2 linked regions of the Homo sapiens genome follow. The protein of the gene in region 1 interacts with the protein of each later gene in a biochemical or structural test. Each region holds a gene or a part of one and is shown on either strand. Other genes may lie near its edges. The genes, in order: NGF and ITGB1.

What was found.
Region 2: the proteins of NGF (region 1) and ITGB1 form a complex in vitro, tested with the Homo sapiens proteins (one study listed by BioGRID).

The regions. Positions count from the first base shown.
Region 1 is NC_000001.11:115,289,460-115,293,282, reverse strand, and holds part of NGF (beta-nerve growth factor precursor), read left to right. Parts: intron 1-3,823. UniProt on the Homo sapiens protein: Nerve growth factor is important for the development and maintenance of the sympathetic and sensory nervous systems.
Region 2 is NC_000010.11:32,920,112-32,923,934, reverse strand, and holds part of ITGB1 (integrin beta-1 isoform 1A precursor), read left to right. Parts: intron 1-194; coding exon 195-350; intron 351-1,199; coding exon 1,200-1,295; intron 1,296-1,588; coding exon 1,589-1,678; intron 1,679-3,549; coding exon 3,550-3,690; intron 3,691-3,823.

The sequences.
Region 1 (3,823 bases):
AAGGTTCACAGCCACTCTTTGTGCCCTTCACCAGTGGAGTAGAGGGGTAGGGAAGAGTTCCAAATCTGCACACAGGAGGTGTGGCTCCGAGTTCCACTTCTGTTTGCTGTGTACCTGTGATGCAATTACTTAATCTTACTACATCTCTGGTTTCTCATTGTTAAAATAGGAATAATATGGCCAACCTCCCAGGTTTGTGTAATGGTTAATTAGAAAATTATACCCAATAAATAATAATTACTATTATCTCAGCTCATTCATGTCAAGGTATGTCTTTTAGAATTCAGATCAGTAGATTTGGTTCCCATTAATGTATCCAGCACAGCTGCCCTCCGAGAGCCCAGTGACCCCACAGGCGCTGGTACCTGCTAGTGTTTTCTGGTTGCATATTTCTATCATGGGCATTTCAAGTGCTTTTAGATCAAGTCTACACGGTGCCCAGAAACCTAACAAAGCAGATATGAAAACAATTCAATATCTAAATATTCCCTAATATCTGGATTTATGGCATCAGGAAGGTAAAACTTACAATCTGTTGAATGGAATTTTCATTTCGATGTTGGGGGATGAGTATACTCACCCCACCACCTATCAGTTACAGTGTGCATACGGCTTCAGGCCTCTCTCCTCTAAAAGATAGCAAAGCTGAGCTCAAGTCAGGTGTTCACGGACTGGCCCTGCCACTCACTGGCTGCAAAAGCCCAAGTCACTTAGCCTCTCCAAGGCTCATTTTTGTCTTCTACAAAGTTAAAGAATTAGGCTAGACTCGTGGCTCTCAAAATATGGTCCCCAGACCAACAGCATCAGCATCATCTGGAAACTTACTAGAAATGTAGATTCTTAGTGTCCTCCTACCAGACCTACAGAATCGAGCATTCTGGAGATGGGGCCCAGCAGTCTATAGTGTAACAAACTCTCCAGGTGATTCTGATGCCCTGAAGTTTGAGAGCCTCTGGACTTGAATCTCTGATGTACCTTCTAGGCCATGCCTCCTCCCAATAAATCCTGTCCTAACAGAAGCTCTGGATTTTACTCTGTCGATGCCTCTCTCTGTTCAGCCCACCCCAGGACACCTCTGAAGTACCTTGCTGGAGAAATGAGGAGCCACAGAATTCCTCCCACACTCCACACCAGCTCCAACCCCCAAGAGTATTCGAGCCTTTACAACTGAAGACAGCAGCCAGTTAACATTTAGAGTGAAGGCCAAGCGTAAAACAAGAAATGACCCTTGGCCCACTCTCAGAATGTGGCGAATGAGATGGAGGAGGAGGAGGCTGGATTTCCTTGGCCACAAGAATTTCCTCTCTCACCAACTGTTAGTGACCCTGGTTCACGTATCCCATCTCTAGCCCAAGAATCACTCGTGGCTCTTGGCATGGCTGTCTCTAAGACAGGAATTCTCTCACTCCCTTCTACAACACATCTCCCCAGGCATGGTTGCCAAGCCTCCCAGTGCCATCAGCCCTCCTAACCACAAATATTTGGGCCAGTTGCTTAGCTCTGTTCAGCAGCTCCATCACCTATTCAGGTGAGGCCAGAATCTTTGAAGATCATTCACCTCGTGCGAGAAATTTATCCTATTATTGGAGTGTGTGAACCATTGGAAATCCACAGAATGTATCGCTGGTTCAGAAGAGGGCAAGAGGGCAGGGCAGCCCATCAGTGGCTGGTTGTAAAGGCATCCCAATGGGCTGCCCCACTCTTAGTCATGGATCTTCCATTCTAGGTAGGAGTAGGACAATTAAAGAGCATTCTCATATTAAATAGAACATGTTCGTTCATGTGAGCCCCTAACTGCATCCTCCTCAGCTGATCATTCAGCTTGCAGAGCTCTGCTTAATAAAGCCAGACAGAAAGCTGTCATCTGTTCAGGAGAAAGGCTTCAAAGGGTGTTTTTAAAAAATAAATAAATAAAACTTCTCCCCTGGTTCACATCAACCAAAAATAAAAAGAATGTTCTTTTCTAAATGGTGCATTATATCACTAGAATAGAAAATGCACTCAATTTTTCTTTTATCTACTGATCACTTTTAAGAGAGTTTTTTTTTAAACTTAAAAGTTTATAGGAACACACTCTCATGAGTAAATTAAATATTTTTTTAAAAAAACTTTAAACCTAAAATCTAAATGAGAGATATATTTGAGACATTTTCAAGTCTTAATGAAACATTCTGCCTGTGATACAAATCTCCATTGTGATTAAATGTGATACCATTTGGTATCTTGACTGTGAGTGGAAAAGTAGTGTTAGAGTGTAGGAACTTTGTGAAGTCAGTTCAGTCAAACCAGCAGATGCAAGGCAGGGTAGAAAACTTCATAATTACCTGAAATGAAAGAATATAATGGTTGGAAGATACCTTTAACATCATCATGCAGATGGAGAATTAAGGAACACTGGAGGCAGGAGACTTGTCTACATACTCACAGTTTCTTAGAGGAGGAGTTACCTAGGAGTTCTAGGTCACCTGGGGGCAACAAAGATGAGTAGGACACTTTGCTGCCTACAGGGAGTTTGTCCTCTAGAAGGGAGGATAAAAGAATACAACAGCCCTAAGAGAATATAAAGGGAAGGCTTTAAGAGATAGAGAAGGGGCAGGGCGTGGTGGCTTACGCCTATAATCCCAACACTTTGGGAGGCCGAGGGGGCGGATCACGAGATCAGAGATCAAGACCATCCTGGCCAACATGGTGAAACCCCGCCTCTGCAAAAAATAGAAAAATTAGCCAGGCGTGGCGGCGTGTGCCTGTAGTCCCAGCTACTCAGGAGGCTGAGGCAGGAGACTTGTTTGAACCCAGGAGGCAAAGGCTGCAGTGAGCCGAGATCAAGCCACTGCACTTCAGCCTGGGTGACAGAGCGAGACTCCATCTCAAAAAAAAAAAAAAAAAAAAAAAAAAAGATGAGAGAAGGTAGTTTGTCTCAGAATTAGAAAAAGCTCCCCAGGGGAAGCAGCATTGAAGTTGTTGAAGGACAACAGGAAGGATTCCACCAGCAGAGGTGGAGAGCAGAAAAGGCCCTGAGAGGGTAGGGGAGCATACCTGGAAGGGAAGAGTCTGAAAAAGGGCAGTGGTGGGGAAGCTCAAGCAGGAACTGCCCCCAGGAGTTTTGTGCACTCGGAATGCAAACTATGTGAGGGGAGTAGAAGGAGGCAGGATCCCATTGCCAGGCAGAGCAGTCCCTACTGGCTTACAGACAAGGGACTTGGCACCAGCTCCTTTGAGCAGGGTGATATGATCAGAGCAGGCTTTAAGAAGCTAAATGGGGTGGCCAGGGATAGGAGGAATTGGAAGAAGAGAGATGAGGGTCCAGGATATCAGGTGGGAGACTGTTCCCATGACCTGAACTAGGGGCCCAGAGATGAGAATGGAAGATAAAATACAGTTTCAAGATAATGCTACCAAACCAGAACCAAAAGGGCTGGATGGAGGTCAGGGAGGAAAAAGCAGAGGGATAAGCAGAGGTATGGAGCTAGTGGATGAATGAATGATGGTTCCAGTAACAGAAAAAGGAAACTGTGAAGAAGCGTGTTTAGGGAGATGAGGAGAGAGGATCAAGAGAGATGGTAGCTGTGAAACTATCATCAAATGGTCCAAAATGGGGCTGTTGCTATTGTATGCAGAGAAGGAAGATGGGGAGAAGATGATCCTAATTATGATTATGAGTATGAAGATTTTTGTTTTGGATGTCTTGCATTTAAAATGCCAGTATCTATGGAGAATTGCCCTCAGGAAGCAGGAGGGCAGAACTAGCTTCAAAAGACTAGTTGATTCGAGATCCAGGTATGGGAGTCAATTGCACAGAAATTTCGATGGGCTCCTTAGAAGA
Region 2 (3,823 bases), on another chromosome or scaffold:
GTACATGGGATGGAAGAGCTTCATTCAGTGGGCTTTGTGTGTTTCTCAGCAAGATAATTACCATTGTATAAAGAGAAGACACAGAAAATACAGAATTAGGTTAAAAATACAATGGTGGCCTATATGAAAATTAAAGGATTTTTGTTGAATTACTGTGAATAGTGTTTTAAAATTGAAATCCTTTTCTTTTCAAGTCACTGATTGGCTGGAGGAATGTTACACGGCTGCTGGTGTTTTCCACAGATGCCGGGTTTCACTTTGCTGGAGATGGGAAACTTGGTGGCATTGTTTTACCAAATGATGGACAATGTCACCTGGAAAATAATATGTACACAATGAGCCATTATTATGTAAGTGCCTGGTTCCTTACATAGTGAATGTGTTTATGTTGGATTTTAATGTTTAATACTAAGAGCTTGTGGGTGACTGGCTTGGGGTTTCTCAGGGTTTGAGGTTTTGCTGTTTTGGTAAGTAGGGGTCCTGATTGAAAGTGCAGGAAAGCTAGTGTTGCTGTTTGTGAAGATGCAGCTTTGTATTTGCTTCCTTCTGCTCAGACAAGGGCCTCACTGGGGTGGGAAAGGGATGCCCAGATGCCACTTTCACTCTTTGCCTCAACTCCCCGCCCACAGCATTTGGTAGCACAGTCAGTACTCTTTCTAAATAAATAATTTATCTAGTCTCATACTCTTTGTTTTATACGATTTTTAAAAGCAGTCACTCTGCCTTTATTGAAAATAAATATTGGCAAAGCATTCAAGTTCTAGAAGAAATCCAAATGGTAAATCTTGGTCTTTTTCTTAAGTTGTAGATAATAGAATATTTAATTACTGACTATTCTTTAATTTCATTGTCCTTATATTTAATATACATAGATAAACTTACTATTTAAAACCTTTTGAATATGGAATTTTTTATTCATACATGAAAGTAAAGAGAAGAGGATTAGCAATTCATGTATACACACGACTCACTTCAGCAGTTTATATTTGATACTGTTATTTGAAAGCAGTCTTGTAATCTAGTTATATGTATGCAACTAGATGTAATCTAGCTATATATGGATTATATATGTAATCTAGTTATCTAAAGCAGTCTTGTAATCGAGTTATGTGTAATCTTGCATGTATAACTAGATTGAAAAATTAGAAGAGATTATAAGGGTGTATTTAAATACTAAATTATATTACTTGATTTCTTAGGATTATCCTTCTATTGCTCACCTTGTCCAGAAACTGAGTGAAAATAATATTCAGACAATTTTTGCAGTTACTGAAGAATTTCAGCCTGTTTACAAGGTAAATGTGTGAGATAAAAAGAACAAGATTCTAAACATTTTTGATTGTTAGAGGCAAATCATGTCTGAATTGAAATGTGGGAAAATGCCACCAGATAGGCAAACCGAATTTTACAAAAGTGGTTTATATTAATTTTTAATCACATATTATAAAACTGGTTTCTAGGTTTGACTCCTAAAGTTAGTTAGGAGGAAACATGGGAACTGGCATTTAAAGATAAAAGTTGCTCAGTGGATCCTAATTGGTTGAATGAATAGCAGTTGTATTTTACGTGTTTTATCTTTTAATTGCAGGAGCTGAAAAACTTGATCCCTAAGTCAGCAGTAGGAACATTATCTGCAAATTCTAGCAATGTAATTCAGTTGATCATTGATGCATACAATGTGAGTACATCTTAAATAAGATCAGTTTTGGACAATACCCTGTTGAGAATACTTTGTACAAAGAAAGTAAAACTTCCTTCATACACACTTTAGCGAGCCCAAAGTACTACAGAAAAACTTAAATTCTGTATGTATCTAGAGGAAAAACTTTATACATATTGTCTTACAAAAGCAAGATTCATGGCCTAAACAAAGTGAAAATGTGATAAAGGCATGTGGGGAGTATTTCCAAATAACTGTTTGTTTATCATTAAGGAATAGATCTCCTTGTTAGAAAGCAATTGTAAAACATAACTTACATTTAAACTTACAGGATTTCTCCAATCTTTTTCCTCCCCAAAATATCCTTTATAGAGTCATCTATTCTGATGAATTGTGCTAGAAAAGTTTTTTTTTTTGCCAATTCTTCTCTTCCCATATATTCAGAGGATATGGGTTTCTATTTCAGGAGGTACACACTCATATATACGTATACCATAAAATATATAAAAATGTAAATATACATGTGATTTGCCTATTTCAAAAAGATTTATAGTGTTGTTTTCCCCTCACAGATGGGAGGAAGTTGAATTGAAATTAAAGAGGAATTGGCTTATCCTTTTTGAGCATAATTCAGTGTACTTTAATCACACCGAGTTAGCCTTCATTAATAATCATTTAAATAATCTGAAGGCGGTTGTAATTTGGTAGGTAACCCTTGTGTGTCTCGTGCACCACTTTCAGCCCCCATCCCCCTAACCCTTTGGCAGCTTGAATTTTAGACATTTTTACTTCATGTCATGGGGGTACCATAACGCTTTGGAAAGGCCAGCCTACCATATGAGGCTTCCCTTTTTTATGGGGTACCATAATGGTTTGGAAAGGCCTGACTTGGAGGGGTTTTTATAAAGGTTTTTAATATTTTACTTGTTCCACAGCTTTTCCCATTCTCCCCTGTCTTAGATAATTTTCCTAACTCTTGTTCTTTCAGGGGTGTGAACAAGAGATAGCTTGCCATTGTACCCTTCTCCATTTGTCCTGAATAGTCTCATATGTTAAACAAGCCCTGGCTTGAATCCTTCCTTCTTGGGGGATTTTGTTTTTTTTTTTTTTTGGCTGGGCTACAATGGTTCCTTAAGCAAATTTGTTCCTAGACTGCATAGTTGATTGTTTACCCTAGTCCATAGTTAGCTGGAGAGGTAGGACTACAGAAATGCCATTTTGCCGATGGGGAAGACAGCATTTATTTCGTTTTTTTTTGGGGGGTTTCTGTTTTTGTTTTTGTTTTTGTTTTTTAGATGGAGTCGCACTCTGTTGCTCAGGCTGGAGTGCAGTGGTGTGATCTTGGCTCACTGCAACCCCTGCCTCCCGGGTTCAGGCGATTCTTCTGTCTCAGCCTCCCGAGTAGCTGGGATTACAGGTGCACACTGCCATGCTTGGATAAATTTTTTTTTTTTTTTGTATTTTAGCGGAGATGGGGTTTCACTGTGTTGGCCAGGCTGGTCTCCAACTCCTGAGCTCAGGCAGTCCACCTACCTTGGCCTCCCAAAGTGCTGGGATTACAGGTGTGAGCTACCACACCCGGCCTATTCCACATTTTTAAGACTCCTCCTAATTAGTAACAGCCCTCTGCACTGTGTGATCCTGAGTATTTTAACTCAGTGATTAAAACAGGAATACTCTTTTCAATTGTGTATTTTATTTTAAAGATTTGATCCTTATTAATTAAAACCTGTTTCTCTGGCCTCTGTGTTTTCTAGTTACTCAATTGGATTTGGCTTGTAGATACTTTATTGAAATATATTTTTTTCTGAGCAGTTTATCCATTGGTTTTATGCATTCAAGTAGCATTTTGTTTGACTTTTCCTGTGTATAATTAGGCATTCTTTTAGTCCCTTTCCTCAGAAGTCATTTTGGAAAACGGCAAATTGTCAGAAGGCGTAACAATAAGTTACAAATCTTACTGCAAGAACGGGGTGAATGGAACAGGGGAAAATGGAAGAAAATGTTCCAATATTTCCATTGGAGATGAGGTATGTTGTATAAAGCATTTTCTGTAGAAAACATTGGTTATTTATAAGCAAATTTAGTTTATAGTTTGAGAAACATTAAAATAAGTGAGCAACTTTTTGAAATATTTTTTAGTAGATTTAAATTGTTTAGTTG